Linked DNA regions of Homo sapiens: all the other regions are linked to region 3. Evidence: fine-mapped expression QTL. A gene starts in region 3. Each other region holds a variant in brackets. All regions are shown on one strand. Distances are between the middles of the regions.

Region 1 (5,427 bases), 71 kb after region 3:
TTGCACATTGTATATATTTGTATACCTTTCTTTTAATCTGTCATTATATTTAAAGTGCATATCTTACAGCCAGAACAGACAATATCTTTTTTTTTTTTTTTTTTGAGATGGAGTTTCATTCTTGTTGTCCAGGCTGGAGTGCAATGGTGCGATCTTGGCTCACTGCAACCTCCACCTTTTGGGTTCAAGCAATTCTCCTGCCTCAGCCTCCCAAACAGCTGGGATTACAGGCACCTGCCACCACGCCTGGCTATTTTTTGTATTTTTAGTAGAGATAGCGTTTCACCATGTTGGCCAGGCTGGCCTTGAACTCATGACCTCAGGTGATTTGCCCGCCTCAGCCTCCCAAAGTTCTGGGATTACAGGTGTGAGCCACCATGCCTAGCCAGAACAGACAATATCTTTTTGGTTCTTGCTTTTTCTTCTAGTCTTACAATTTGTGCCATTTATTTGGTGCAGCAGTCCATTTATGATGAATTCAATTATTGATAAGACTGGCTTTATCATTTTGCTGTTTTTTAAAATGATTTGCCTTATCTGTTTTACTTTCTGTTTTTTTTAAAGAAATTAAGATGGGAAAAGAAAATAAATATAATTCTTTATATGTACTTATATATTTACCATTTCTGTTGCTCTTCAATGTTTTCTGTATATCTATGTTTTTATCTAGTGATACTTATTTTCTAAGAACTTCTTTTAGCATTTCTTGTAGTGCTGGACTGCTCATGACAAATTTGCTATTTTCTCTGCTCTGAAAATATTTTTACTTCCTCTTCATTTCTATTGGATACTTTTTCTGGATATAGAATTCTGTATTGGCAGTCTTACCATTTTACCTTTTTTTTTTTTTTTTTTTTTTGAGACAGAGTTTCGCTCTTGTTGCCCAGGCTGGAGTGTAATGGTGCAATCTCAGCTCACTGCAACCTCGGCCTCCTGGGTTCAAGCGATTCTCCTGCTTCAGCCTCCAGAGTACCTGAGATTACAGGCGCCTGCCACCACACCTAGCTAATTTTTGTATTTTTAGTAGAGACGGGGTTTCACCATGTTGGCCAGGCTGGTCTCGAACTGGTGAGCTCAGGTGATCCATGTGCCTTGGTCTCCTAAAGTGGTGGGATTACAGCCGTGAACCGCCGTGCCTGGCCCATTTTACCATTTTAAAGATGACATCTCATTGCTTTTCTCCTTTTTTGTTTCTGTTGAGAATTTAGCTATCATTCATGTGTTGTTTCCCATTATTAATGTGTTATTTATTTTCCTCTGGCTGTTTTCAGTATTTTCTTTTTATCTTTGGTTTTTATTAGTTTTAGATTATGTTCTTAGGAGTGATTTTCCTTCTGTTTATCTTGATGCGGATTCAGTGAGTTTCTTATACCTGTAGGTTGTATCCCAAATTTGGGGAATATTTGATCATTACTTTTTCAAATTCCTTTCCGATTTCATTATATGTCCCCTTTATTTTGGGGGACTACAGTTTCACTTTTGTTATACTATTTGGCATTGTTCATAGGTCACTGAGGTTCTGTTCATTTTTTTCTCCCATTTTTTCCCTCTATTCTTCATATTGGATTATTTTTAGCAATCTGTCTTCATGTTTACTGACCTTTTTATCTGCCCTCTTCTATTTGCTATTAATCTCATTCAGCTATTATTATTATTATTATTGAGATGGAGTCTCGCTCTGTCACCTAGGCTGGAGTGCCGTAGTGCAATCTCAGTTCACTGCAACCTCTGCCTCCTGGGTTCAAGTGATTCTCCTGCCTCAGCCTCCTGAGCAGCTGGGACTATAGGCATGTGCCGCCAGGCCAGGCTAATGTTTTATATTTTTAGTAGAGACAGGGTTTCACCATGTTGGCCAGGCTAATATTTTATGTTTTTAGTAGAGACAGGGTTTCACCATGTTGGCCAGGCTGGTCTTGAACTCCTGACCTCAAATTATCCACCTGCCCCCGCCTCCCAAAATGCTGGATTACAGCTGTGAGCCACCGTGCCTGGCCCTCATTCAGTTATTTTTAAAAATTATGAATGCTGTTCTGTTCTGGAATAGTCACTTGATTCTTTTTGGTAGTTTCTACTTCTCTGAGATTCTTCAAATTTTTATTCATTATGACTATATTTTCTTCTAA[G/T]TCTTTGAACGTATTTATGCAGATATTAAAGTCCTTGTTTGCTAGTTCCAGCATCTATGTTACATAAGTTTCTTTTCTACTTACTGACTTTTCTTTGATCCATGGCCCATATATTCTTATTTCTTTGGATTCTAATAATATTTTATTGTATGCTAGATATTAAATGTGATGCATTATGGCTAATCTGTGTTATGTATCCTCTTTTTTGAAGAAAAGTTTTATTGGGGAATAATTTCAGATTTACAGAAATGTTTTTAAGATAGCACAGAACATTTCTTTATACCTTTCACCCCATTTCCCCTAATGTTAGCATCTTAAAAAATCATGGCACATTTCTCAAATGTAAGAAATGAATATTGCTACATTGTTTGAATTTTACCAGTTTTCCACTAATGCTCTTTTTGCTGTTCCAAGATCCAATCCAGGATACCACATTACATCTAGTTGTTATATTTATTGTTTTCCTCTGGTCTATGACAGTTTCTCAGTGTTTTTTTTTTTTCGTGAACTTGATATATTTTAAGAGTATTGGTCAGATATTTAGTAGAGTACCACTCAATTTAGAATTATCTGATTTTTTTTTTGCATGTTTACATTGGATGTGTAGGGGAAAACTTTCTTCAGCTGTGTTTTTCTTCTGCTTTCACACCAGCACTACCACAATTATCAACACAGAAGAAGACTTGTGTGACCAAATGTGGTAGGGGTGTTCCCCACATACCAATTAGCAGACACCAACTGGGTATCCTCTAATTCAATTCCGACATTATCTACCTGGAGATAGTGTTAGATCTTACATTTCAGGGATTCAATATGCAAGATCACCCCCTACACCCACAGACACCAGTCACAAGTCTGGGCCTCTGGAACATCTGACCAATAAGCTTCAAGTTGGGATTTCCACAACTTCCCCTTTGAGTTCAGTTAATTTGCTGGAGCAGCTCACAGAACTCAGGGAAACCCTTATGTTTATCAGTTTATTATAAAGTATATTACAAAAGATACAGATGAAGAGAACTGTAGGGCAGGGTATGGGGAAAGGGGTGTGGAGCTTCCATGCCCTCTCTGGGAAGGCTGCTCTCCAGGAATCTCCACAGGTTCAGTCATCTGGAAGCATTCTGACACAGTTCTCTTGGGTTTTTATGGAAGCTTCAGGACATCAGCATTCTTGCTGCTGACCCCCTCCCCTTGTCACCCCAGTAAAGGGCAGGACCCTCTCTGGGGAAGGTTTTAAGACCCACAATCAGAAAGGCAGGGGAAAATTAGAGTCCTGCCTTGAGGCAGATGAAAGGAGGGCAGAAGAAGGCCAGAGGCCTTCCCCTTGGGGCCTGACACACTCAACATTATAAGAAAGGACTGTAACAGGGACCATAGGAGTTAGGAGCCAGAAACTGTGGATGAAAACCAATATATACATATGTATAATACCACCCTGGGGTTATGGATTTTGGGGAACAAACCTTACTGGTTAGGTGCTTTTATCATTGCATCATATTAGGGGGTACATGATATCAACAAGACTCATCACTGGTGGTTCACGCAGTGAACCCTGTTCATGTGGTTGAGGTGGTATTTGCCAAGATTCTTTAATGAATAGTTACTATTTCCTTTTATCCATAGTGTACTCTTTGGAAGTGAGTCTCTTATCCCTGACTACCCTCAAAGGGAGGAGAGTTAAATTCCACATCCTGAATGGGGAGTATCTACATATATTATTTGGTATTTTCTGTAAGCAAGATTTGTCACTTCTCACCTATTTATTTATTTAAATCAGTATGGATTTATATAGTTTTTCCCCTTGTGTTATAATTCAACACTGTCATTTATTTTGTTGTTCATATTGTTCCATTGGGAGCTTTTCCAGGTTGGTTTCTGTGTCCTGATATGCTCCCATCTTTTTTTTTTTAACTTGCTTATTTTTTAACATTAAAAGACTGGAAGATCCTCCAAGCTTATTTTGTACTTTCCCTGTCCTGGCCCTAGAATTAGCCATTTCTTCAAAGAGCCCCTGATTCCTATGTTGCCTTCTGATGTGGTTTGGATCTGCATCCCCACCCAAATCTGACGTTGAATTGTAATCTCCAGTGTTGGAGATGGGGCCTGGTGGGAGGTGATTGGATCACGCGGATGGTTTTTCATGAATGGTTTAGTACCATACCCCTAGAGCTGTTCTCCTGATAGAGTTCCTCACAAGACCTGGTTGTTTAAAAGTGTGTAACACCTCCCCGCGTCTCTCTTGCTCCTGCTCTGGCCATGTAAGACATTTCCCTTTGCCTTCCACCATGACTAAGTTTCCTGAGGCCTGCCCAGAAGCAGATGCCACTATGCTTCCTGTACATCTTGCAGAACTGTGAGCCAATTAAACCTCTTTTCTTTATCAATTATTTGGCCTCAGGTATTTCTTTATAGCAGTGCAAGAATGGACTAATACACCTTCCTTTTTTTAAAAAATGATCTTAATTATTTTAAAGCATACAATTCAGTAGTGTTAAGTATTATTATGGACTGAATGTTTGTCTCCCCCAGATTCACATATTGAAGCCCTAATCCTCAGTGTGACTGTATTTGGAGATGGAGTGTTTAAGGAAGTAATTAAGGTTAAATCAGGTTACAAGGGTGGGGCCCTGATCTGATAGGATTAATGTTCTTGTAAGAAGAGAGACCAGAGCCCTCTCTCTTTCTTCCCTTGTGCACACACTGAGGAAAAGCCACTTGAGGATATAGTGAGAAGTCTGCAACCCACAGGGGAAGCACTCTCCAAACACCAACTCTGCTGGCATCTTGATCTTAGACTTTCAGTCTGTGGAATGATGAAAATATAAATAAATTTCTGTTGTTTAAGTCACCTAGTCTATGGTATTTTGTTGTGATAGTCCAAGCAAGTGAATACAAGAATATTCACATTGTTGTGTACCGTATCTCCAGAACTTAATCACACTGCAAAACTGAAACCCTGTACCCATTAAGCAACTTCCTTTTCTTTTTCCCTCCAAACTTCTTTCAGTAACCATTCTTCTTTCTTTGTCTATGGGTTTGACTACTTTAGATTCCTCATATAAGTGGAATCACACAGTATTTGTCATTTTGTGATCAGTTCATTTCACTTAGTATAATGTTTTCAAGGTTCATCAGTGTTATAAAGTATGACAGGATTTCCTTTCTAAGACTAATATTCCATTGTATGTGTAGACCACATTTTGTTTGTTTTGCCTTCATATTAAGGGCGTGAAAATTTGTTCTCAGAGGCAGCTAAACTATTGATGACTCTTTTTGGCAATGTTAAGTTTTGCTCTGTTTTTGGTTG
Region 2 (5,427 bases), 130 kb after region 3:
CAAGGGTATGGAGGCTCTGGTTGGAGAATAAAGCTCTTTCCTGATTGCAATATATGAATTCTGTTCATTCAATAAGTTGGTCATATGTATAAAGTAGACGATTGCTAAATATAACATTAGTTATCACCTTCAAAGCTTATCTCTTCGCCTCCGCGTCTATTCTCTTTGTCCTCTCTCATTTGTTGTTTTTGATGGCTACTCTATGCTTTTACTGAGAATAGAAGAATGAGAAAACCAGCTTAGATTGCGTATGTGAAATACTAGAAAGTGAGATTGTATTTTCCTTCTCTGATGACTTTACAAATAGAATGATTAAAAAGTATTTTTCTCTAATAATTTGTGTACACAGAAACTTAGGATTGACAAAACGATCTTATTTGTTCTTGACATATGTATAATTTTATGCTTTTTTAAAAAACTTTTTTTTCTGTTCATGGCCTTTTCCTCTGTTTCTTCTTCCTCATGACACCACTTTAACAACTGATGTCTTACTACACATTATTCTCATTATCTCATTATAGGATTTAACTGCCCTCTTTCGGTCAATGCCAGTAATTGCACCATTAATGACAGTTGCTAAAGCAGTCAGTCCAGTGACTTTTCAGAGGGTGCTGAGATTACAGATTCTCTTCCAGGATTCTTTGTTTGTTTAGTAGCCAATCAAGGGTAAAGTCTCTTCTATTCAATCACTAGAGGAAAAACCATTTTCTCACTACCTTGATTCTAGAAAAATTTGTGCATTCTTTTGATAATACTCAGACACAAATAGTTCTTTAGTGGCCATTCAATTATTCCCTTTGTTACTGTACATTTCCAAGATAGATTATTTGATTAGCAAAAATGCCTGCGCAATGCATTCAGGTTATTGCCAGGTATGGACACTACTAGAATGACAGTGAGTAAGAGAGAAAAAAGAAATGATACCTTTCAGTAAGAAGGAAAATGGAACTATCAATAATAGAAGGCTAATTAGTAAAGAAAAAGTCAAGAGAAGATAAGACTGAGAAAAACTTCAGATTCTTAATAAAAAGAAGGCACTCAATTATAGGAAAGTAAACTTTCTGAAAAGTAGGAGAGAAGTAGGATAGTGGTAAATTTGCTACCATTTTGAAATGGTCCATAATCATGAATATATAATTTCAGTATATGGCACAGACTCATTACAGAATCACACAGTGCTAAGTTCCTAGGCCTTGTCTGTCCTCGAACAATAGTATATAATTTAACTTCTCTCGCCTCATCTTGACAGATAAATACCATGCTATCCATTTTTCTGTTTAAGCGCCTTCTGTGTTGGGCTATCCAAGTCAGGAAATCTTTCCTTAGTATTCTGTAGGACCCATTAGGTTGAAATCAGGAGGTTTTTCACCATTTGATGGTTTGGATCTATAAGAAGGACACTTTCATATTGTTCAACCCAAATATTTATTGTCCTGTCATGAAATAGCAATGATATATTTGGAATGTCAGCTAGCTTTTCTGTCCAGTGCCTCCCTCCCATCTTCATCTCAGATATTAAATTTTACTAAAACTTACTTTTATTTAGAATGTAATTCTTCTGAATCACTTTCAGACTTTCTGTTTTTATATGTGGTTGTGTGGTCTGTGACATCACAGGACATTTTCTGAAAGGGTGCCTCACTATTGTCTCTGGGGTTGTTTTCCAAACTATTGAAAACTATTCTGCAGATCTTCATGCTCAAAATGTTTTGATCTTACAAGAACTTATCACTGAAAGATTTCAAACAACAACTAGAATTCAGATTCCTTTTTCAACTGCTTATTAAACGGTTCATTGATTGAAACATTGAGAGATTGTAGTTGTTCAATGGGAATGTCAATGGGAAGACAACTAAGTTTATGCATGAAGAGGGAAAGGCAAGTGAATCACGACCACTGCCCACCTGACAGCAGCTGTGCAAAATGCTGTGACAGACTGTTTCCAAAGATGCACATCACTGCGTATCTTCCAACAGACATGCCCTTTAAAAACAACTTTATTGCCAGGCGTGGTGGATCATACCTGTAATCTTAGCACTTTGGGAGGCTGAGGCGGGTGGATCACCTGAGGCCAGGAGTTCAAGACCAGCCTGGCCAACATGGTGAAACCCTGTCTCTACTAAAAATACACAATTAGCCAGGTGAGATGGCTCATGCCTGTAATCCCAGCTACTTGGGAGGCTGAGGCAGGAGAATCACTCGAACCTGGGAGGCAGAGGTTGCAGTAAGCTGAGATCGCGCCTCTGCAGTCCAGCCTGGCGAAAGCGTGAAACTCCATCTCAAAAACAAACAAACAAAAAAACAAAACAAAAAACTTGGTTGATATGTAATTGATGCACTATAAACTGCACCTGTTTGACATGCGTATTTTGATGAGCCACAGGATTTTTTGCCATGTGTCCTTGATACTGCTTCTCCAAGAATTTGAGTCTATTTTTACTATTCTTGAATCCAGTCCAGCCCTGTGACTCACTTGACCAGCAGAGTGCTGTGGAGCTGGTGTTGTGTGTCTTGGAGAGCTAGGTTATAGAAGCCTGGCAACTTCTACTGTCTCTTGGCACATTTGCACTTGGGACCCCTGACCTGCCTTGTAACAAGTGTATCTACTTGCTGGAGAGACCAGGTAGAGAGGACCTAAGTCTATTTGGAGAGTGAGAG[G/A]TCAAGTTATCCCAGCATCCTAATCAAATCTTCAGGTAATTCCAGCTCTAGCTATCATCTAACTGCTTGAGGTACCCCATGCGAGACCACTCACCTTACCCCAGTCAACCATAGAACCATGAGAAATAAGAAAATGATAATTACTTTAAACTGCTAAGTTTTGGAGTGGTTTGCGTGCAGCAATTTATCACCAAAACAGAGACTGGTACTATGAAAGGCTGATGATTTTACAAAAATCTAAAATATGTGGCATTGGTTTGGGGACCAGGTGATGAGAAGAATCTGGAAGGGACTCTAAGAAATTCTTTGTAAAGGCTGGAAGGACAAGGAACACATTTTTTATTGGGAGCTAGAAAAAAGGTCGCTTGTGTAATGTAGTGGCAAAAAGTTTAGCAATGCTTCAGCTTGTGATAAGGTGGCTAAGGAAGTATCTACCTAGGATGTTGAATATACCAGCTCGTTTCTTTTAGCTGCATGTGATAAGGTAAAGATGGAGATGAACTAAAGAAGTAACTGCTCAGTTTTCAACTAGAATCTAGAGGCAACACATTTCTTTGCCAGATTTTTTAGGATTGAAAACAAAACTGTTTCTCATCTCCATTCTCTTCCAGTAAAAGATTATTAAAGTAATAAATTACAACAGAGCAAAAGATCAAATTCAGGGCACTGCCACTAAAAGTATGGCCTCAGGGTCAAGATTTCAAGATTACAGCTGTAGACCTTTGTGTAGACCTCAGAAAGATTTAAAATAATGCCTCCTGAACCCTCTCAGCTAGGCAAAAAGTCTACTAAAAATCCCAAGGACGTGTTTCTTAGACCTTTTCTGTTAAAGGCTTCTTAGAAACTTAAGAGCATTGTTACCCAGCACTTTTCTTCTCAGTCAAAGGTAGAGAGGGACCTGTCTTATGATTTATCAGTGTGGCTTTTGTTTACTGGAATGGTTATAGATTGATAGAAAAGAAGTCCATACAGCTTTTAAAAGAATTCTGCTGCCTTGTACTGAAAGGGAGAGACAGTTGAAAATAAAAAAATAAAAAGAGGCCTCTGAGTCTTCAAACTTTTATAGTCAGGAAGCAGTTTGATATTGACCAGCAAATATGGGCAATGTCTTATAGAAAAGGAAAGATAACTTAAAAGGAAGATCTTAGAACCCAGAAAGCAGAGGGAAGAGGAATGGAGAAGCACTTTGATGATTGCAGGACTGGGCCCTCATGGAGGAATGGCGATGTGTTCCCAGCCAGAATTGCTATGATGAGTGATTGCTATGTGCTTCCTGTTCTCTCAATTTTTTTGAATAGGAATATTTATGCCCTTATCCTTTCTTTGTCTCACCATCTTTTTTGGGTTTGTGTGCATGGCAGATATCTTTTTTTTTTTTTTTTTGAGATGGAGTCTTGCTCTGTTGCCCAGGCTGGAGTGCAGTGGTGCACTCTTGGCTCACTGCAACTTCTGCCTCCCAGATTCAAGCAATTCTCCCTGCCTCAGCCTCCCAAGTAACTGGGATTACAGGTGCCCACCACCACGCCGGTTAATTTTTGTATTTTTTTAGTAGAGATGGGGTTTCACCATGTTGGCCAGGCTAGTCTTGAACTCCTGACCTCAGGTGATCCACTTGCCTTGGGCTCCCAAAGTGTTGGGATTACAGGCATAAGCCACCACATCCGGCTGATATCTTGTTTCTTAAGTTCAAATGTCTTCGGGTTGAGATATCTTGTCTCCTGTGCTCAAGGAGTAGTACCTAAGGAAGTTCACCCAAAGGACTCCATTCACATCTGATTTAGGTGATGAAATCTTAGACTTATGCTTAAGAAGATGAGGCTTTTGAGGAAGAGGCTAAGTGCATTTTGTATGTGGGAGAGAGATGAAATTTGTGGCCAAATGGCAGCTCATAACAATGTGTGTTTCCAAAGGTGGCCACAATAATATCTCCAACCACATGCTCTTTTGTAATGTGATCTTGCTACTCCTCCCTCAAGAGGTGAAATCTGTTTCACTCTTCTTGAATCCTAGCTGACCTTATGATGTACTTGACTAATCAAATGTAATGGAAGTAATACATGACTTCTGCGGCCAATTCAAAGAAATCTTGCAGCTTCTTCCTATAGTTTTTGAAGCTCTTGTTCTTGGGAGCTCTGAAATGCCATGTAACAAGCCAAGCTACTCTGTTGGAGAGACCATAAAATGAAGTCCTGAGACTACATGCAGGGAGAGAGAGAACAAGCAGTCTCTCAGAATCCCAGTGGAGTCTCCACGTGACTCCAATCCCAGCTGCCATCTGGCTGCAATTTCATGAGAGACTCTTGGCAAGACCATGAGAAAAATCATCCAGGTAAGCCATGTCAACCCATGAAACTGTGAAATATATGAAATTGTTGTTTTAAGCAAATTAGATTTTGGGGTGGTTTTTTATACAGTAACAGATAAATGAAGCAGATATTAATTTATTGTAATATGTGTCCCAATTTCAAGGATCTTAAAATGTAAACAAAGTACAACTTAGAATTGATGAAATAGAAAAAAAGAAACGCATGCAAATTATATGAATAGGTAATTTGTAGAAAAAGAAATCCCAATGGCTAGTATGAAGAGACGCTTTACTCCTCTAGTAATCAAAGAAGGAAAAGTTTAAACAATCAAAAAATAAGAATTTTTACTCAAAAAAAGTACAAACAGGCTTGGCGTGGTGGCTCACACCTGTAATTCCAACACTTTGGGAGGCCGAGACAGGTGGATCACTTGAGGTCAGGAGTTTGCCACCAGCCTGACCAA
Region 3 (5,427 bases):
CTATGAGAGAAGGGCAAGAATCTAGGAAATTAATTCAGTTAACTAATATTTATTGGACATTTTCTATTTTCCAGGGATTACGAAATATCCCTCTTCTACATTTATCATTTAGACTTCAATTGTCTTCACTGAAAACTGAGGGGCTTAGTTTTAAAGTTCTTTTTTTTTCCTTTAAATATCTAAGAGCCTATAAATCCACTCAATCTTCATTTTCTCCCAACTAGACCTTAAAGTGGCATGCAGAATTATAGTGAGACACAGGTGGGCTGTGTATGGTGGTTCACAGCCACAGTTGGTGGTGGGGAGAGTAAAGGTTATGATTTCCTTTTTTCTCTACTTCTTCCTATCCATATTTGCATAAAAACATGGTCACACATTCTTACTTGATTACTTGTAGAAAGACACATTCCAAAGATACTAACACCTTTAGGGTAAAGGACATCTCTTCCTTCACAATTTATTGCAGAATGCTAGGTTTACAGGAGAAGCTTGAGGAATGCTTAAGCAATGTTCAGTTGATATGAAAAGTTCTATTAGCTTAACTTCTAGTCTATTTGCTTCAGTTGCTGCCAAACATCGACAGCCTTTCAAACCAGGATCCTTCCTTATTTAGAGAAGTTTGCAGGAGGGCTTCCATTTCCATACACCGGATTAAATGCTTTTCCTTCTCACCTGTTTAGGCTAATGGCCTTCAGTGTTATGCAGAGTAAAGACATTCTGTAGCCTCCATTCAGAAGAACCATTTTGTTTGAAAAAGAAAAGTCTAATTCAAGCAGAGTCATTAAATGAAAATGAGAAACTTTAGAAAAATTAAGAAAAAAAAGTTGAGTATTCTCTAGGGAACACAGATTGTTTTGCTGTTTAGACCGAGATAAGTTCTTCAATGCCTGCTCTCAAGCTGATTTAGTCTATGAAAATGATTTTCTTATGGATGGAGGCTTTCCTATAACTTTACTTTGCTGTTGATATATTTCTTTTTTATACTAAATCTTTTTTGGTGGGAACTGTTTAGACCTATGACCTTAGAACACTGGCCTGACTTGGAGAAAAATGAACTTGAAAAGAATCCTGTGATATATGGAGCACACACCTTTACATATAAAAATTAAACTACTGGCCCATAATCAGTATAGCTCGCCTCATGATAGATTATTCTCAGGCTAAATTTATAACAGGCACTCAACAAAAGTATTCATCGCTTATCCCCTAACATTATCTAGTAGCTATAGGAGCCGGTGACCTAGTAAATAAAAAAAAAAAATCTTTAGGGGTGGAATGTAACTATATGCAGTAGCGGTAATTCTGCTCCATTTGTAAGGAGGGTGAAATGCGATATGGTCATGTACCCTCTTGGTACACAAGTTCCATAGGCTATAGAAAAACAAGTCCATACCCTCTGATATCTGCATTCCTTATTCTTGTTATAGCTTACAAATCTTCTTTAGACACTTAACAGTGATAATTCTCCCAGGGAAACTAAGGAAGCACATGAGTCATGTTTCTTAACTTTAATGTTGTATAATCTGAAAATTATCTATAGATGCTTTTTTTTTCCATTGGTGCTAGAAAATTCCGCCTAGGCTCAATCGATATCCATTTCTAAACTTCTGCAAGAAAGCTTTAACTGCTTTGACATGCCAAAAATCCAGGTGTGAATTAAACAACGAATGCTTTACCTCGTTTTCACCACTAGTTCTACCAGTCAGAATCTTTTCAAATCATCCTCAGCCAGTGCCTGTCATCCACGGCCTGGTAACACACCCTTTCACCTCCTCATACCCCGTGTCTTCGCTTTTCCAGTCCTTTGGCTGCCCTCCGGTTTCTTCCCTCACATACCTGTCTGACTAGTTCCTAGAAGCCTGGCAGAAATTGTTCTCCGATTTTAATCTGGCTGCCACAAATGAAAGACCTTGGAGTCCAAATACTCCTCTCTCAAAGCAAAATCTAAATGGATATAATTTATAAGCAAAGATAACACTTCTGTTTTTTTCTCTATAAACAAACCATGCATGGGCTTTTAAAGGAGAAAAGGAAGAGTGGATTGACAGAGAAAATAACTGTTTAGGATAGAGGTTAGGAAAAGACTGAGAGCAAGAGAAAAGGCATCAATCCCAGTTGTTAATCCACGAGGCATCCCCCAGACCCTTCTGTAAAGGTTAATGAAGGCAGTAAGGCAGTTATCTTTGTTTCGTGCACTGATGCAATCCAAGCTTCCACGGTTTAGCACATAGTAGACGCTCTATAAATATTTATTGAATGTTGAACGATGAGAGAGTAATTAAAAACCGGTAAGTTGATATCATAAATACAACGACAACGGCTCCCCTATCAAATGTTTAGTGTTCCCAGAGACAGCCCCATTGTTCTACATCTCGTTATACTCTGGCCTTTTCCCGTTTTTGTCATTCGAACTCATATACATATTGAAATCGAAGCACACACAAATCCCTGAAATGACAAACTTAAATGCTATCCAAAGGAAGTTACATTAGGTTGCTGCTTTGAAAATGAAGTCAACTCCTAATGGGTTAGCTGTTTCTGCAGCATTCTTTCCCGCCTTCTTGGAGTTGAGGTGAGGGATTAAACAATCAACCTTCTCTCTCCTTTCTCTCATTCTCAAAGTTTTTCTCGCCTTTTCCTTCCTTTCCTTTGCTTCATTTCTTTTCCCAGTCTATCGTTTCTCTAGGGGTCGTTGCTTTGCTCTTTCTCCCTCTCTGTCTGTTGGTCCCTTTGATCCTTTCTTTCTACCCCTTATTCCCAGCAGCTCCAGAAAATACCTTCTTTCTCCCCGTCTCACGTCACTTCCCTCCCTTCTCCCATCTCCCTCTCCTCTCCGAGAGGTGCGTTCCCCACTAGAGGCCAGCACTTTCTTAGTTTCGTCCTTCCAACCGGCGAGCAGAACTCGGAGAGAAAGAAGGGGGTAAAAAAGAGGAGAAAGAGAGCAAGAGAGGAAAAAACCCCTGGGCCTGGAGCGCAGAGGCCCGGGAGCTGCGTCGCCATGGCAACGGGCGCCGGCAGGAAACGAGGGACGCGCGGGAGGGAGGGGGCGGAGGGCGCCGAGGGGAGGCGGAGGGACGGCGGGGGGGGGGTCCGGCTGCCCCGGAAGCACCTCCCCGCAGCCCCCTCCTCCAGCCCGGCCCGCAGCCCCTGGCCTGCGGCCCCCACCTTCTCGGCCGGGCAGGAAGTGACAGGCCCGGAGCGAGCCCCGGAGGCCTGGCTGAGCCGCGGCCGGGCCCGCACCCGGAGCGGCGGGAGGGGCGGGGAGCCGCGGTCGCGCCGGGCGCCTCCCACCCCGCCCTCGGCGCCCCCGCCCCTCCAGGAAGGGGAGGAGGCGAGGGGAGCCCGCCGCGGAGGCCGAGCGAGCCCCCAGCCCAGCCTGGCGACTGGGGACCCCGGCACATGAGGTGGACGCCCCCGGGGAAGACTTGGGTGCACAGCCAGGCGAGAAGGTAACCGGGCGACCGAGGGCCGGGGAGGGGCAGGACCTCTGGGGGCTTGGCTGCGCGGGGATGTATCCTCAGCCACCTCCATCTGTGTAACGCCCCAGGTACCTCCCCCAGTTGCTTTCCCTGCCTACCTCCGGCGCTGAGCTCTGCGGTCCTTCGGCTCTGCCTGTCCGAGTCTTCTGGCTATTCATTCTGCTGCGCTTCATGCTGTCTGTCCGTCACCCTAGCTGCCTCTGACTGCTCATTTTCTTATTCATTTTTCCTTCTCTGACTTTGGTCCTTCCAGCCGAGCATGCTGTCTAGTTATCTCCCTGCTTTCGTGGTCCGCTGGGTTCCTCAGCCTCCAGTTCCTTGACTTCTGCCTCTGCTCTCTGTATGCACATGTCCCAGCTCACTTGGGTCAGTTCATTCCCGGCGCACCACTGGATCCACCCCCTTCCCCCAGTGTATTTGATTTCTCTTTGAAACATCATTTTCATCAAGGTTCTATATAGAACGAGGACCCTTGGGCGTCTACTCCCTGTTCTCTTGATTATTACCGTGTCTTTGGCACAGTCTTCCCTGAACCACCCCCTTCTCCCGTCCCCCTTCCTATGTCCCATCCTTTCTGCATGATAAGAGTTTCGTGCTTAGGGATATTGACTTTCTCCAACTCTCGGCCCAATGCTAAGTCCACCTCAATGTCCCATTCTAACTCCCTTCGGTAGGTCTGTGCGCCTACCCAACCCCATGTATGCCCACATGCTACCTTTTAAGATGACCATGGCTTAGCTACTCTGGGGGCATCTGTGGATCAGCTTCTCACTGTCTTCCAGTTTAATTTGGAAAATTTTGATACCTGGTGCTGCCCAAACTGTTTGTTGTCTCCATTTTTTATATTTAATCTTGTAGTCATAATGTTGATCACAAATGAATACATTTATGTGCCCGGGATCCAGGAATCCTGGTTTTGGTGGCAGTTTCCCTTGATTTTATTGAGACTTTTAAGTTGGTCCCTTTACATTTTTATTTCTAGTTCACAATCCAAAAAAAATTATTAATCAGAATTCAGGTTTGGGAAGACGAGGGGTCATACGGTTTGTATTTTCACATGTGAATGTAGGAATTATGTTCTCTATACCTAGCAAAGGGGTCTCGTGTCTCTGAGTCCAGTGAACTAAATCCAGTAATCTATAAAACTGTGCCGTGCTGCCTCTAATCCTTACCCACTTTTTTTCTTCACATGCTGATAATGAGGATTCATGGGTCTGTATCTGTTTAGTGCTTTGATATTTTGGCAAAAGATGTGGGGAGAAGGTAGACTAGTTGAAGCTGATATGATTTTTCCTATGTACTTTTTGGGTAATATACATGTTTGCAGTGACATTTGCTAGTCCTAAATGAAACTAAAGACTGGGGGGGGATAATAGTGTGATTGGATGATACTGGGAATGAGATAATAAGAAATATCCTCAGCTTTATTGCCAAGGCCAAGCAGTTTGATACTTTGCTTGTTTGTTTGTTTTGGATGCAATCCCTAAGACCAGTCCATTCACCCTAATGAAACTGTTGACAACACTTAGCAGAAATTCTGGTTTGATGTTTATATTCTTAAGCCAGATAATATTTTGGTGACCTGATATTTCTAGTGGCCCAGTGCCTCAGAAGTAGAGAAAATAGTGTGTAGCTTAACAAAAGAGAAAAACAAAAAAAAAGAATGAGTAAAAACCTTATTGTCATTTAGTGCTGCTTTGGAAGAATATTTCTTCTTCTCATCTCCTGCCTCTTTGCTTGGTTCTTAGCAGTGTTTTCATATGTGTCTTTTTGCAAATGTAAGTGTAGTCCCCAGTGGGTAAATTCTGACATGTTAGTAGATTATAAAGTTGCATCTTACTTTCTTGAAGATTTTCATTGTGTGTATTTCTATGTTTCATACTCCGGAGTCATTTCTTAAAATGATATATTACATTCAGTATGAAGCCTCCTTTGCAGTGAGGAAACA
Region 4 (5,427 bases), 160 kb after region 3:
CACATACTTGTATAGGGGTCTTCATCAACATAGTGTTGAACTTAGAAAATAAAAAGCAGACAAACAAAAAACTAAGCTGCTGAAATATTCAAAAATGTTTCTCTTGTTTCTTGAATAAGAGAGAAATAAAAATCTTGTTTCTCTCAAGATGAAACACATGTGAAGATTCTAAATATTAGTTAGGGATACATATGCAGCAAAAATATAAGGAAATCCATGGAATTGTAACGACAAATTCAGGATAATGATTGCCTCTGGAGGTGGTAGTGATACACAAGGGATTTATTTTTCCCATGTCGGTAATTTTCTATTTCTTAATCTATGAGAGAGTTGTACAGTGTTTTCTAGTTATAGCTTATGCCCTTTTGTATATCTATTATAAAATATTTCTCAATACATTTTAAGAAGAATTAATGGCTGTCAAAGGAAAAAGGTAGACTGTTTTAATGGACATCTTGTGATTTGCATTTTATTTTCTATTTCTTCAACCGCTCATATAGACCATGGTATATGTAGAAGTACTGTGTGAATATGAGTAGATTGGTCAACATTATTGGTCTTATGAAATGGGCTTAAAATACCAGAATTCATTCAAGGAGTTACTTCCATGATTATTTTCTTATGTTTAAGGTTATATAATGTACCAGGTAAGGGTTGGGCATATATTGAGAACTGATATGTTAATTGTAATAACTAGTACTTTTATAGGATTTGCTATGTGACATGTACTCTACTAAGTGTTTTACGTGTACCAATTCATTTATTACAACAGCTCTGTGAGGTAAATACTATTATTATCCCCATTTTACTGATGAAGGAACTGAAACACAAGGAAGTTAATGACTTTCCCAAGCTCACATAGGTAGCACATTTTGGAGCTAGTCTCCAGAGAATGCTCTTCTTACCAGCATACTATAGAGATGGTCCCTGACTTACAATGGTCCCACTTAAGATTTTTTAGACTTTACAATGAGTTTGTCAGGATATAACCCCATCGTAATTGAGAAGCATCTGCACGGCCTCTTGTCTTCTGATTTCTGATTTGATTAAGAAATCCTAGATTTTATAAGATGCAATATGGACAAAATATATATGATATATAGAAAAGAAGAGAGGAGACAGGGATCACAGGAGGTAGGAGTGAGGGATTTTTGCCATGCAGTTCTTGATACAGAGGATGGGCCAGGAGAAGGATCTCAGGTGTGCTCTCACCTTTCTTCACAGCTTCCTCATTAAGTGACTTGAGTACTTCCTTCCTCTTGTCCTGGTTACCTGCCAGGGCAAAAGCATAGGCCAGCAGTGCTTTGGTATATACATGGCTGCCATGGTCCCCTTCTTGTGCTGTCTTCCAGGCTGACTCCAGGCAAAACAGGGCATTGCGGACAACAGGGTGCTGTGAAGGCAGAACAAGAAGGGAACTAAGCTATGTAAACAGGCATATTAGCATTCCCAGGCAAATACACGGATCACAGCACAGAAGTTTTTCAAACGCATTTTTCCAACGATTCCTCATTCTTATCAATAGATATAATATTATTTTTATCTGTTATTCTCACATTCAAAAGATACATCTTTAAGATTCTTTTTTGAGTGGTGGTGGTAAATAGCCTAGGGGAATTACTGGGAAAATTTAAACCTTTCTTAATGGGCTGACCAAATTCTCTGTAGATCTGGGAAGCACTGGCATTGCATAGAAAGAAAGCTGATGCTTTGCTTTTAATAGGATAGTATTTCAGACAGCAGGTCAGCAGTTTCATTGCATCCAGAACTCTCCTTCAGCAGAGGAATGGGGTGGTACCTACAGTGACTGTGAGAGGAATCTCCAGAAGGGCGATGGTGATATAGGCGGAGAGGGTCACTTCATCTTCTACTCCTCCCTGTGAATACGAGAGAGAGATCTGAATAATTCAACTTCTGAGAATGCTATTGATTAGTTCTTTCTATTCTGCTGTGTCATGGAATTCATCCTTACCCATATCCATCCCTATAGGGCAAAGTATCACAATCAACTTTTGTTCTATCCCCTCTTTTTTGGTGCCATCCAGGTTTTATTTTCCTCTGAGGCTTTCCCTTAGAATTTTTCACATTATCACTTCCTATCCTCATCCTTGCAGATATCATAATGGACAAATCAAAACTAGCTCCAGAATGATTCACCTTTATGGCATTGTTGAGCAGTGACCCAGAGCTCCTGAAACAGCCATTGTCCTTCTGCCTCTGGGAGAGCCATATGAGGGCTTGGGTAATGTGTGCTTCATCGATGAAGATGTAGGCTCGAGCTTGGGCAAAAGTCTTCAGAACAAAGGCTGTGAGCCTGACCAGGGAGGAAGCAATCATGATGTTTATGTTGTCAAAATGGTTTTATAACCACTTCACAGCAACAGGCTTCATATGATGTGAGTTAGCTAACAAAATTCTTGTGTACTTAGAGAGCTTATCTCCTTGATTAATCTTTAGTCTGCCTGATTAATCTGCTAGATGTAGTATTTCCTTGCTAACTCTCTCTTTGCCACAGGGAGTCTTAGTATATTTAATTTTATTTTAGTTCCGAGATACATGTGCAGAACGTGCAGGTTTGTTACATAAGTATACGTGTGCCATGGTGGTTTCTTGCACCTATTGACCCATCCGCTTAGTTCCCTCCCGTCACCCCACACCTCCCAACAGGCCCTGGTGTGTGTTGTTCCTGTCCCTGTGTCCGTGTGTTCTCATTGCTTAACTCCCACTTATGAGTGAGAAATGTGGTGTTTGGTTTTCTGTTCCTGTGTTAGTTTGCTGAGGCTGAT[G/A]GCTTCCAGCTTCATCCATGTCCCTGCAAAGGACATGATTTCATTTCTTTTTATTGCTGCATAGTATTCCATGATGTATATGTACCACATTTTCTTTATCCAGTCTGTCATTGATGAGCATTTGGGTTAGTTCCATGACTTTGTTATTGTAAATAGTGCCGCGATAAACATACATGTGCATGTGTCATTATAGTAGAATGATTTATATTCCTTTGGGTATATACCCAGTAATGGGATTACTAGGTCAAATGGTATTTCTGGTTCTAGATCCTTGAAGAATCGCCATACTGTCTTCCACAATGGTTGAACAAATTTACATTCAAGTAATTTGAATGTACTTATTTTTGTTAGTTACTTGAGTAAGGCTTTAAATCTCTCTTATCTTTAGAGATTTCCTTCTGCAGATGACAGAATCTTCTCACATGCAGCTCTTACATGCAGTAAATTTTAATATTGCTTTACTTTAGGGATTTAAAAAAATGTTTTATATTACTGTTTCCTTCTCAATTGTTTCCTCTTATTAATGAATTCATTCCAAGTCAAGCTGAATGACTTAGAATGTGACAATATAAGCTGAAGTTAACATGGTTTATCTGGAAGTTATATATGTTCACTGGCAATATCATTTTAAAACTCATGGTTATGGTAGCTACTTTAGAAAGAATAGCCATTTCAGAAAGAAAACCTTGGTACATTATTAATAGGATCCATTTTGGAAACAAGCCTAACATAACATGTATTTGGATATCAGGTTTTCTTCTGATTACCTTGCTAATCTTGGTGGATTTATCTAGTATAACAAACCATCGGTCTGATAATACATATCTGATAGTGTTGCTGTGAATATAATTGAGGTAATACATGTAAAAGAGCTGGCACACAAAAAGAAGCTCAAAAAATTGTTCTTTCCTTACCAGGTGTTGCCCTGGTTCCTGCCATATCGCTCCCCAAAGGTGCTGTAGGAGCCATCATAGTGTTTGTAGTTCAACTGTCTCTGGTAACCTGGAAAGGAAGATTAACGAAACAGCACAATGGATTAATGTGCATGCTGAGGGTGGAGAAATTACTAAAAGTACCTTGGCTTCTCTTGTGACATTTCTTAAATTTTGTTGTCATAGATTAGGAGTTTCTGAGCCTTAAATATTTTATTGGAGGTTGGAGAGTGGATAGTTTCCTTGAAATTAACTATCATAGCAGCTATCATAGTGAGCTAAGCTAATGTATCATAATATTCATAAGTAACTGAAACCTACTGGGAAATCCAGTTGAAATAACATTCAAGTTTTCCCTTACTCAAGTAATCACTCACCAGTGTTGAGATAGCCAATGGCCTTGGACTTGATCTCTGGAGTAAGCTGCTGTGTTTCATTTAGATAATCCAGTACATAGATGTTAGGAGCAAAGAGGACCATATTCTGCTCTCCACAGCCATAGGGCATCTGGAGAAGATTTTGTGTGTTTTGCATGGCAGAGCCTAATATGTCTCCTAGAGAATGGGAGAGATGGGAAGTCATAAAGCTTGGAGATTATCATCTATCAAAGTCATTAAGCAGAAATAATTAGTTGAGCTTAGAAATTGAGAATTTTTAGGAAGGATGATTCTTCCAGGGATAGAAGTATGATTGAAAGCAATAAACAAGCCCAAAGAAGAAGAGAAGAAAGAAGTTAAAATTATAGTATTATTTTTAGTAAATATTTATGGGAAATAAAAATAGTATAATAGAAGCTGTTAATGCCCGGATCCACTAGGGGCTGGAGACTCACCCAAAACTGAGACAGAAGCTCGGGCAGATTCTTCTACCACATTTGGTGGCAGTTTCAGGGATAATTCTTCAGAAACCTCACCACCTAGAGAAATAAGCAAATCAGACATATGAAAATTATTTCTGCATTATATCTTTCTAAACAGCTCTATGACCCAGAAGCTAGGACTATGCCTTATACCTAAACTCCTCCTGAAAAGTTGTCCGCCTTTAATACAACAGTAATATATAAATATCTTAAAAATGGGCTACTGGTTTCCTGTGATTTTCAGAATTTCTTCTTCAATGATCTTTTCAGTAATTTATGTAGAATCGCATGCCAAATAAGACAACAAATTGTAAGAGCCTGGTGATGTTGTGATTCAGTTGCTGTCATCTGATGGCTGACACAAGACGGTTATCACAAGATGATCTATTTAGTTCCCACCACCAACTTCCTTACTCAACAGTTGTATGGAGAAAACACCAACAACAAAGCCCTATAAGTATACATAAGTAAAATTACCCACAAAAGGTCCTGAATTCTATAATAATGCTATGTTCTTTCTTCAAATTTCATATACAAAGATAGTATTTTTATGGAAAACCTAGAAAATTGAGGGTAAGGAAGTGAAGACGAACAGTATTTGATGCATTGAAAATAAAATAATTACTACTCATGAACATACATTTACTTCCATTTTAATCTTGGTAAATTATATGAAATGAAAATGAGAGAAGTATGGTATTTATTTTCATACTGAATCCCTTCCTCATAAAATTCATATTAAAATGTTTCTTAAAAAAAAGCCATAAGCATAGTTAAAGGACAAATGGCTAAGCAAAATAAAATGCTTGACTCACTGAAAATAAAATAACTGCTACTGATGAACATACAT
Region 5 (5,261 bases), 24 kb after region 3:
TTGAACCTGGGAGGCGGAGGTTGCAGTGAAGTGAGCTGCACGCCACCGCACTCCAGCCTGGGCGACAGAGCGAGACTCTGTCTCAAAAAAAAGTAGGAATAAAATGAAGTCTGTCTACATATAGAAACCATATTATATATCAGAGTATGTAGAATCACGGAAAAGGAATTACATAAGGTGAGGGGAATTTATCCAGCTAAAGTAATCTTTTGAATTATTATTATTATTTTTTTTTGAGACGGAGTTTCGCTCTTGTTGCCCAGGCTGGAGTGCAATGGTGGGATCTTGGCTCACCGCAACCAGTGCCTCCTGGGTTCAAGCGATTCTCCTGCCTCAGCCTCCCGAGTAACTGGGATTACAGGCATGCGCCACCACGCCTGGCTAATTTTTGTATTTTTAGTAGAGACGGGGTTTCTGCATGTTGGTCAGGCTAGTAGTCGCCAACTCCCGACCTCAGGTGATCCGCCCGCCTTGGCCTCCCAAAGTGCTGGGATTACAGGCGTGAGCCACCACGCCTGGCCCTTGAATTATTCTTTACTCTATAGATGTATTTTTTGGCCGAGTGTGATGACTCTCACCTATAATTCCAGTACTTTGGGAGGCCAAGGCCGGTGGATTTCTTGAGCTCAGGAGTTTGAGACCAGCCTGAGCAACATAGTGAAACCTTGTCTCTACAAAAAAATATAAAAATTAACTGGGCATTGTGGCACATGCTTGTAGTCCCAGCTACTTGGGAGGCCAAAGTGGGAGGATCGCTTGAGCCCGGGAGGTGGAGGTTGCAGCGATCCAAGATAGCACCACGGCACTCCAGCCCGGGTGACAGAGTGAGACTGTCTCAAAAAAATTTTTTTTTCCAAAAGATGATCTAAAATAGGACATTTATATCTTTAATTTCCAGTTCTCCTTATTCTAGATTTTATAATCTATCTTAAGGACTCTTACTGATTTTCCCACTGCTTTTGGAAATCTTTGTGGTAGAAGGATCTTATATCTTTCTAGGCATTAGTAGTTCCTCTCTCCTCAGAAATTGAATCATATCTGAAATCTAAGAGTATGAATTAGGATAAAATTAGTAAGACATCTAAAATGGAGAGAGTTCGGCTTAAGGTTAGGAAGACGTCATAAAGTTCTCAAGGGACAAGTCTTCGTGATTTTAGGTTTTGAACTTTGCGTTTTAGGGATTCTCAACTAGGTTGTGTAGGTTTTTGGGGGTGAACCCTGAGAATAATTTTAGAATCCAGCTCTGAGCCTAATGATTGCCTGAGGGGCAGCAGAAACCCATGGTGACTGTCCAGCAATACCTTGTTTTTTAGAGTTAGATAAGAAGGCGAATCTCCTGAAGTGCGAGTACTGTGGGAAGTACGCCCCCGCAGAGCAGTTTCGTGGCTCTAAGAGGTTCTGCTCCATGACTTGCGCTAAGAGGTACTCTGGGCACCCTCCTCCTTGCCCTCAGCACTGGTATCTCCATCTAATGTTACACCCCTTCCCCAGGATCGTCTCATAGCTGATATTTTATGTCTCCCTCCTTGCTTTTATTCCCTTCCCCAAATCAGCTCATAAGCAGAAATTCACATTTAGAGCAGGGTGGTCTTCTGTGGCACTATTGACATCCTATATATGCCCTGTCCTGTAGGTACAATGTGAGCTGTAGCCATCAGTTCCGGCTGAAGAGGAAAAAAATGAAAGAGTTTCAAGAAGCCAACTATGCTCGCGTTCGCAGGCGTGGACCCCGCCGCAGCTCCTCTGACATTGCCCGTGCCAAGATTCAGGGCAAGTGCCACCGGGTGAGCTGCTTGTTGTAGAGCCAGATGCCTTTAAACTGGGTCTTTTTTTCTTTCCCTGCAGGGCAATTCATTTGCCCAGGTAAGAGGGTGTGAGATGAGAACTCTGGTTTCACATTGATTGCATTACTACAAATTCCAAGAGATCCTGACCCCCTTTGTCTCCGGACCTCTTACCCAACTACTGGTTCATGTTTCCATTAATCCTTACACTGTACTTGAGTACAATTGTTAATTGTACTCAATTGTACTCAATTTCTCTCAATTGTACTTGAGAGAAAATCTAGATCAATTGTTAGGTCATGGGGAGAATCAAGGAAGTGATACAGTTTCTATTTGAAAGACTTTGAGAGTAGATTTTGGGAATTTGCAAATAAAGTGCTGCTTATTTCACATATGATAAGATGAGTTTTTCTTCTACGCCCAACCCAGGGTGGTTTGGGAAGAAAGAGAGAGGAATAAACCTTTGACACTGACCTCATTGGTTTGCTCTTTTCCCCTATAGGGTCAAGAAGACTCTAGCCGGGGTTCAGATAATTCCAGTTATGATGAAGCACTCTCTCCAACATCTCCTGGGCCTTTATCAGTAAGAGCTGGGCATGGAGAAC[G/A]TGACCTGGGGAATCCCAATACAGCTCCACCTACACCGGAATTACATGGCATCAACCCTGTGTTCCTGTCCAGTAATCCCAGCCGTTGGAGTGTAGAGGAGGTGTACGAGTTTATTGCTTCTCTCCAAGGTACTGACCCTCTCTTCAACAGAACCCAGGTTGTTTTCCTTAACATCATCCCACAGGGGCCTTGATAAGAGGGAAAGTAATTGACTTTTAAGCAGTAGGAGCTTGAATGCTAATATAGAGGCTCTACTCCTAATATTCAAGTTGACTTCCTAATTTTTTTCTGGGTTGACATTATCTTCTGTAATGTCAGCAATTTTACAGTGTTTGATTCTCATCTTATGATGTAGCTGCATTTCTCACTAAATTTTTGGATAAAATGTTTTTGTGTAATTAACTATGATACCTCCCATGGGGAAAAAATTTTTTTTTTCAGTGGAGCAGGGTATTAGAAACTAAGTGGCCATTGTTGCCCCACTCTTCAAAGAGGGCTTGTTTGCTAGTCTTCTTTTTTTTTTTTTTTAAACAGAGACAGGGATTCCCTATGTTGCCCAGGCTGGTCTTGGAGTCCTGGGCTCAAGAGATCCTTCTGCCTTGGCTTCCCAAAGTGCTGGGATTATAGGTGTGAGCCACTGCACTCAGCCTATATGCAATTTTGACAAAGAGTTTTTTTCGGAAATGAAAATCACCCTACCCTTCTTGCTATTTGTCTGAATTCTGGGCCCTTAAACAAAAATATCACAAAGAATCTTTTTGCCAGTATAAAAGAAAACATGCTTTTATTTCTGTTCTCTCCCTTTCCCCTGTCTCTAAGCTATTTGAATGAAGTTATTTCTGTGGTTGAACAATTTAGTTGCTTTTCCTTTCTTGGTCTTGGACTTTGGTTTTGTTGTTGTTGTTGTTTTGAGACAGAGTCTTACTCTGTTGCCCAGGCTGGAGTGCTGTGGCATGAATTTTGGCACACTGCAACCTCCGCATCCTGGGCTCAAATGATCCTCCTGCCTCAGCTTCCCGAGTAGCTGGGACTATAGGCATGCATCACCATGCCCAGCTGATTTTTGTATGTTTTGTAGAGTCAAGGTTTTGCCATGTTGCCCAGGATGGTCTTGAACTCCTGAGCTCAAGTGATCTGCCTGCCCTGGTCTCCTAAAATGCTGGGATTATAGGCGTGAGCCTCTGCACCTGGCCATTTTTTAAATACCAGTTGCTTTCTAATTTCATTTTGCTTTTAAAGCTTGCCATCTGACTTCATATTACTGAATTTAGGACAGGTACTTTGGAATTAATCATTGCTAGACCTCAGTTTCATTTAGCTTCCCTTCTCCTATCATCTGGCATTACCTACATGTTCTCACCATTTCTTCTAGGCTGCCAAGAGATTGCAGAGGAATTTCGCTCACAGGAGATTGATGGACAGGCCCTTTTATTACTTAAAGAAGAACATCTTATGAGTGCCATGAACATCAAGCTGGGCCCTGCCCTCAAGATCTGCGCCAAGATAAATGTCCTCAAGGAGACCTAAGGTGGCCCTCTTGCACAAACCAGCCTAAGGCAGACACTCTCCACTGTCCAGGTTATAACCTGGTACCAGCAGACTTTGCAGGGAAGAAAGAGTTGTTCCAATCATGTAACCTTCTGTAGGGGATTACTGAGACAGGGAAGAGAAGTGCAAGAATTGGTTGCTGGTGCTACATGGCGGCAGCTTTGACATTTTCTCTGGGTTCTACTTTATTTTTTAAAATCTTTACAGTTCTCACCATTTCACGTACCTTAATCCAATCTTTATAAAAGAGGCAGTCTAGAGAACTAGGACTGCTCAGCCTTATCCTGGAGTGGAGCATTTAGCCCAGGTCTTAATTCTCCAAGAGGAGGAATACATAGTATGGTAAGGCAAGGAACTGGGTGGAATGTCAGGTTGCCTGCCCAATGGGAGAGGTAGGGTTTTTCTAGCTTGTGTGACAGAAGTAGCAAAATCTGGTCCTCCCCCCTCCCAGTGTAGCTGTGGCTCAGAGTTTTTTCTTTTTGTTGTCACTTACTCCCTTGTGATTGAATTTTTTCTCCTGCATCCATGGCAGGATCCCCAGCCAGTATAGAGACTTGGTTGGCATCTTCTGCTGCAGGGACTAAAAGTATTTGACTGGGGCACATGTGGCTGTTGTCATTCTTTCTGCATCCCACTGTTCCCCTCCAATTTATGTTATTTTCTACCCTGTTTTTCAGTTCCATCTCTGCTCTGTCCTATAGCTTTATAAAACCAGAGTGTGTGGGGCTGAGGTCAGGAGTATAAGTACCTGCCTTAGGCACTATTCCTTATATAACAAAAATATTAAATATTTTTTTCCTCAGTAAAAGGATGAAAATTGGTTTCAGTTGTCTTACTCTATTCCAGTCTTTGCCCACTTTCACACAAATGACAAGGCCAATATGTTTTGTTTGTTTTTTAATCATTAAGAGTTTTTGTACAAAAGGTGATGGTTTTTTTTCTTCATTTTAAAACACCAGGGTGTGGGGGAGGGATGCAAACAAATAACAAAAAAGATGCTTTTGTAACATTATTTTCCCTGTTTAGAAAGAAAAAAATCACTCCAATAGTATTGAAAAGTCCAAAGATGAAATAGTTTCATTTTCTTTTCCTAAGGCTTATAAAAGGCCCCCTGCCTGTTGATTCCATCCCTCTTTTGTGTCCAGTGGAGCCATGTTACTCTTCAGTGGCCCAGGGGTTCACTATTAAAGAAAGATCAGTCCAGGTTTCTGGGCACATGGCCTAAACAGGAAGATGGAAGCATCAGAGGATTAAAAACCTTTCCCCACAGAAATGTGGGCAAGAAGACACTTCCCTGAGCCAGCAGAAGGGACAGGTGCAGCA
Region 6 (5,427 bases), 23 kb before region 3:
TTAATATGTTTTTATGCTTAAAAGTTTTATTGATCATCTTATCAGAGTTTCTGCCATAAAAATATGTCTATAACTTCAGATATCAAAACATTTTTATTTTATAAGGCTCAAATATATTCAAGGCTTCTTGTGGATTGAGTTAACATCACAATTAGACATATTGGATCAAAACAGCACACATTTTTAAAATAAGAAGTTAAAAAATATCACTTCTTTTGTTTTGAGACGGAGTCTTGCTCTGTTGCCCAGGTTGGAGTGCAGTGGTGTAATCTCGGCTCACTGCAATCTCCGCCTCCGGGGTTCAAGCAATTATCCTGCCTCAGCCTCTCTAGTAGTTGGGATTACAGGTGCGTGCCACCACACCCAGTTAATTTTTGTATTTTTAGCAGAGAGGGGGTTTCACTACATTGGCCAGGCTGGTCTCAAACTCCTGACCTCAAGTGATCCTCCCGCCTTGCCTTCCAAAATGCTGGGATTACAGGCATGAGCCACTGCACCTGGCCAAAAAATATTACACATAATAAAAAGTAAAAACTAGAAGCACATTTTCTAATGACATGAATGTGGTTGGGATTTTTTTCAATTATCCAATAATATATTAGTGCATACATTCACAGATGATTATTGCTTATTTCTTTTTTTCTTTTTTTGACATGGAGTCTCACTCTGTCCCCCAGGCTGGAGTGCAGTGGCACAATCTCAGCTCACTGCCACCTCCACCTCCTGGGTTCAAGTGATTCTCCTGCCTCTGCCTCCTGAGTAGCTGGGACTACAGGCGCCTGCCACCACGCCTGGCTAATTTTTGTATTTTTAATAGAGATGGGGTTTCACCATGTTGGCCAGGCTGGTCTCGAACTCCTGACCTCAAGTGATCTGCCCACCAAAGTGCCGGGATTACAGGTGTGGGCCACCATGCCTGGCCCATAATTTGCTTATTTCTAGAATGAGACAAGAATCAAGATTAATTGTATTCCAATTTTTAATTTCTTCAGGTATATTATTTGAGAAATCTCACTCATATAAATAAGAGTAGAAGGCATTTAGCTTTAGCAATGCCAGTGAATTTTGTGAACTCTTTCAAGTTATATACCAAAACCTTATAATAATCTTTCATCAAAAACTGATTTATCAGCACTCAACTTGATTAGATGCTCCTTTAATTTGGTTGAAAGAATTATAAATCTTGACTTCCAAAAAGATTTTTCATGAAAGTACTTTATCTACACAAAGTGACAATATTTCAAATTATCTTTGGTGGTCAAGAGGGGGTATGTGTGTGTGTGTGTGTATGTGTGTGCCCTAGAACAGCATACCATGGAAGGAATGAGAGTTGCAGTAACCTTTTGTAAAGTGAGCAGGGAGAGGGGAAAGAAGATGCTTTGACACGTAGAGAACATTCTTGGTGAAGTGTCAAGATGGAGACTGCATCTGGAAGTCAAAATCTGGAAATTTCAGCCCTGTCCATGTTGGAAAGGCTTTGTACACCCCAGAGATACATGTACTCCAGTTTGAAAATTGCTGATGTAGTGTGTATCTAGTGTCAATCAGCCTGTGTTCAAATAACAGCTCTACATCTTGCTAGCTGAATGACTTTGGGCAATTTATTTAGCCTAACTATACCTCAGTTTCCTCCTTGGTAAAATGGGAGTGATAATACCTCAAAGAGTGGTAGTGAAGATAAAATTATCTACGTAAAGTACTTAAAACTGATAGGGAGGAAGGGAGGGATTGCAAATTAGCACAAGAAAGCTTTGGGGGTGATATGTTCCATTATCTTGATTATGGTGATAGTTTCATGGTTGAATACATGTTAATATTCATCAGATTGTACACTAAATATGTGCTGTTATTGTATACCAATTTTACCTTAGGAATGCTGTATTAAACCTGGGCACAGTGGCTCACGCCTGTAATCCCAGCACTTTGGGAGGCTGATGCAGGTGGATCACTTTGAGCTCAGGAGTTCGAGACCAGTCTGGCCAACATGATGAAACCCCATCTCTACTAAAAATATAAAAATTAGCCTGGAGTGGTGGTGCACACCTGTAATCTCAGCTACTTGGGAGGCAGGAGATTTGCTTGAACCTGGGAGGCGGGGGTTGCAGTGAGCTGAGATCACGCCACTGCACTCCA[G/A]CCTAGGTAAAAAAGCAAGACTCCGTCTCAAAAAAAAAAAAAAAAGAAAAGAAAAAAAGAAGAATGCTGTTTTAAAATCTTTCATTTTTTATTTTTAAAAAATAGGGACAGGGTTTCACCGTGTTGCCCAGGCTTTTCTCAAACTCCTAGACTTAAGCTGTCCACTGGCTGCAGCCTTCCAAAGTCCTCGGATTACAGGCTTGAGACTCTGTGCCCGGCCTGTTTTAAAAATCTTAATTGGCATTTAATATATATTCAATAAATATTAGCTATTATTGTGAAGAGAGATTCTGGACCTTTCTTGCCAGGAGGTAAAATTTCCACTCTCAATGTAGGCCCCTGTTGTTTCACTGGGACCTTTCTCCCCTCTCTACAGCTTTCCCCTTCCCCAGCCCCAGGAAAGGTGGAGGCGCCACCTTCTGGTCAGAAAGGAGATTACACAATGGTGTCCTGCTTTTAAACTTTTTGTTTTGTTTTAGCATTTATTTTCGAATAGACAATACACGCCCACGTAAAAATTCAAAGGTCCTAAGAGACACCTTCCACATTTCTTCTCTCAGTTCCCTCCTCGGATGTAACCTATACTATTACTTTTGCCAAATGTCAGCGCCCTGAAATACACCACCCGAAATCTCACAGATAGGCAAAGCTGGAGTTTATTCATGTCTTAGCAAGGGAGCACACCGCCTTGCGGAAACTTGAGCAGCATCTGGGAGGGGAGGGCAAAGGGAGGATATTTATGAGGTTCTAGGTTGGATTAAGGTGGGTCTTTCAGTGAAGGGCTCTGATTAAGTTTGGGTACGGATCATGATTTAGCAAGGTGAGGGCTTAAAAAAGTTTTGGAGCATGAATAATCATTTGATAACTGTACTGGAAAGCTAAGCAATTTAAAATACGTTGTCTGGATATTCCTGAAATGAACAATAACATTATTTAAAAGTTTTATTTTAAAAAGTTTTTTCAGTTAAAAAAAATTAAAGGCATAAGTATGATACAAAGGACTTTGGGGACTTGGGCGGAAAGGGTGGGAAGGGAGAGAGGAATAAAAAACTACAAATTGGGTTCAGTGTATACTGCTCGGGTGATGGGTGCACCAAAATCTCACAAATCACCACTAAAGAACTTACTCATGTAACCAAATACCACCTGTGCCCCAATAACCTATGGAAATAAAAAGTTTTTAAAAATTTCATTTTGTGAGTGCAGAGTAGGTATATGGGATACATGAGATGTTTTGATACAGGCGTGTGATGTGTAATAATCACATCCGGGTAAATGGGATATCTATGACCTCAAGCATTTATCCTTTGTGTTACAAACAATACAATTAGGCCAGGTACAGTGGCTCACGCCTGTAATCCCAGGACTTTTGGGAGGCTGAAGTGGGTAGATCACTTGAGGTCAGGAGTTGGAGACCAGCCTGGCCAACATGGCAAAACCCCATCTCTGCTGAACATACAAAAAGTAGGCGGGCGTGGTGGCGGGCGCCTGTAATTCCAGCTACTCAGGAGGCTGAGGCAGGAGAATTGCTTGAACCTGGGAGGCAGAGGTTGCAGTGAGCCAAGACTGAGCCACTGCACTCCAGCCTGGGTGACAGAGTGAGACTCTGTTTCAAGAAAAAATAATAATACAATTGTACTTTTAGTTATTTTAAAATGCACACTAAATTATTATTGATTAGAGTCACTCTGTTGTGCTATCAAATACTACATTTTATTCATTCTATTTTTTTGTACCCATTACCCATTCCCATTACAGCTTTTATTTTTGGGGCAAGGGCTTCCTGAAATACTAAAGTCTTGTTGGTAAAGACAGTAGAATAGCAAAGTCAAGCTAATGTAGGCAGTAAAGTGTGTGGGTGGGGCTTGGCTAATTCTCAGTTTCTGGTATATCTTTTCAGAGATATTCTGTGCTTATTCAACTATACATGTATAAATTTCTTTTATTATTATTTTTATCTTTTTATTTTTTTTTGAGACAGAGTCTTGCTCTGTCACCCAGGCTGGAGTGCAGTGGCACGATCTCGGCTCAGTGCAACCTCCGCCTCCCAGGTTCAAGTGATTCTTCTATCTCAGCCTCCCAAGTAGTTGGGATTATAGGCTCCCACCACCAAGCCCAGACAACTTTTTTGTATTTTTAGTAGAGACAGGGTTTCACCATGTTGGCCAGGCTGGTCTCACACTCCTGACCTCAAGTGATCCTCCCCTCTCGGCCTCCCAAAGTGCTGGGATTACAGGTGTGAGCCACCGTGCCCAGCCTATACATGTATAAATTTAAGAAATGTGATATTTTCCCCTTTACCAGTTGTTGCAGAAATCCAGAAACTGAGTATGAGATATTCCTTAAATAATGGCGATCCAACAGCGTTTGCTCTGTGGTGATATGTGATGTACTTTCCCAAAGTACGTATATTTACGTATTTTGTGTTGAATGGAATTACCGTTTGAGGTATTCTAGTGTTTTCCCTCTCAGCAATTTATCTAACAGATTATGGTTTTGGCAAAATCTGTGGGGCACATTTTCTTATTCCTGGTTTCCTCTTTTCCATCACAAAGCAGAGTACAGGGCTGAGTGGCAGGGGACAGAAATAATTATTCCATAAGCACTGAAATCTGAAGGCCAGCAGAGGGGCCTTCATTAAGTGCGAATCTGTTGGGCACCCACTGAGTAGTGAACAGGATGAATGTGACAACCACACTCCCTGCCCTTCCCAGGCTTGCAGCTTAGTGAGGGAGAGCAACACTGCCTGCCCTTCATTAGGGGGATGAATGTGACAAAGCACAGTCAGGTTGTGGGAACCTAACCTAATCTTTGGGCTGAATTAAGAATTCCCAGAAGTGACACTCAAGTTGCAAGATGAAGAATAAGCAGGAATGAGACAGGTGAGGGGTGCGGTGTGGGAGGATTGTTCTTGTAAGGGGAGATAGCCTATGCCTTCTCTGGAACCGAGATTACTTTTCTCCGTGTTTCTGGTTTCTGTGTTCCGCCATTTGTTCTGTACATCTTGTGGTCTGCTTTCCAGATTTTTTTTTTTTTTTTTTTTTTTGAGACGGAGTCTCACTCTGTCCCCCAGTCTGGGGTGCAGGGGCGCAATATCGGCTCACTGCAAGCTCCGCCTCCTGGGTTCACGCCATTCTCCTGCCTCAGCCTCCCAAGTAGCTGGGACTACAGTCACCCGCCACCACGCCCGGCTAATTTTTTGTATTTTTAGTAGAGATGGGGTTTCACCGTGGTCTCGATCTCCTGACCTCATGATCCGCCCGCCTCGGCCTCCCAAAGTGCTGGGATTACAAG

Alleles and levels. Alleles are on the strand shown, and positions count from the first base shown. SD is a standard deviation of normalised expression in the study named. Not every link is listed here.
With allele T in place of G in region 1, the expression in whole blood of the gene that starts at base 3,131 in region 3 is higher (moderate effect, 0.46 SD a copy in Lepik 2017).
For the expression in lymphoblastoid cells of the gene that starts at base 3,131 in region 3, G is the high allele of the variant in region 5 and A is the other (moderate effect, 0.57 SD a copy in TwinsUK).

Evidence for each region. PIP is the estimated chance that this variant, and not a neighbour inherited with it, causes the effect.
Region 1: its variant is fine-mapped to the expression of PHC1 in whole blood (TOPMed, PIP above 0.99).
Region 2: its variant is fine-mapped to the expression of PHC1 in whole blood (TOPMed, PIP 0.92).
Region 4: its variant is fine-mapped to the expression of PHC1 in whole blood (INTERVAL, PIP 0.97).
Region 5: its variant is fine-mapped to the expression of PHC1 in lymphoblastoid cells (TwinsUK, PIP 0.95).
Region 6: its variant is fine-mapped to the expression of PHC1 in whole blood (TOPMed, PIP above 0.99).

Annotation. Positions count from the first base shown.
Region 1 is chr12:8,982,559-8,987,985 of GRCh38, forward strand. It overlaps a transcript of KLRG1 not described here. Among named protein-coding and RNA genes, the nearest start is that of KLRG1, 4.3 kb to the right of the region's middle. The variant G/T (reference allele first, on the strand shown) is at 2,124.
Region 2 is chr12:9,039,053-9,044,479 of GRCh38, forward strand. It overlaps a transcript of KLRG1 not described here. Among named protein-coding and RNA genes, the nearest start is that of LINC00612, 23 kb to the right of the region's middle. The variant G/A (reference allele first, on the strand shown) is at 2,659.
Region 3 is chr12:8,911,379-8,916,805 of GRCh38, forward strand. It overlaps PHC1 (polyhomeotic homolog 1), which reads left to right and starts at 3,131. Exons shown (of 15, transcript NM_004426.3): 1 at 3,131-3,449. RefSeq lists an enhancer at 264-816 and silencers at 3,013-3,122, 3,173-3,222, 3,293-3,582.
Region 4 is chr12:9,075,544-9,080,970 of GRCh38, forward strand. It overlaps A2M (alpha-2-macroglobulin), which reads right to left. Exons shown (of 36, transcript NM_000014.6): 23 at 4,551-4,634; 24 at 4,096-4,272; 25 at 3,701-3,788; 26 at 2,158-2,314; 27 at 1,803-1,877; 28 at 1,213-1,393. It also overlaps a transcript of KLRG1 not described here. Among named protein-coding and RNA genes, the nearest start is that of A2M-AS1, 13 kb to the left of the region's middle. The variant G/A (reference allele first, on the strand shown) is at 2,787.
Region 5 is chr12:8,935,543-8,940,803 of GRCh38, forward strand. PHC1 (polyhomeotic homolog 1) reads left to right here. Exons shown (of 15, transcript NM_004426.3): 12 at 1,314-1,422; 13 at 1,634-1,784; 14 at 2,287-2,518; 15 at 3,763-5,261. The coding sequence ends at 3,917. It overlaps M6PR (mannose-6-phosphate receptor, cation dependent), which reads right to left. Exons shown (of 7, transcript NM_002355.4): 7 at 4,819-5,261. Among named protein-coding and RNA genes, the nearest start is that of M6PR, 11 kb to the right of the region's middle. The variant G/A (reference allele first, on the strand shown) is at 2,390.
Region 6 is chr12:8,888,197-8,893,623 of GRCh38, forward strand. No RefSeq gene overlaps it. Among named protein-coding and RNA genes, the nearest start is that of PHC1, 24 kb to the right of the region's middle. The variant G/A (reference allele first, on the strand shown) is at 2,134.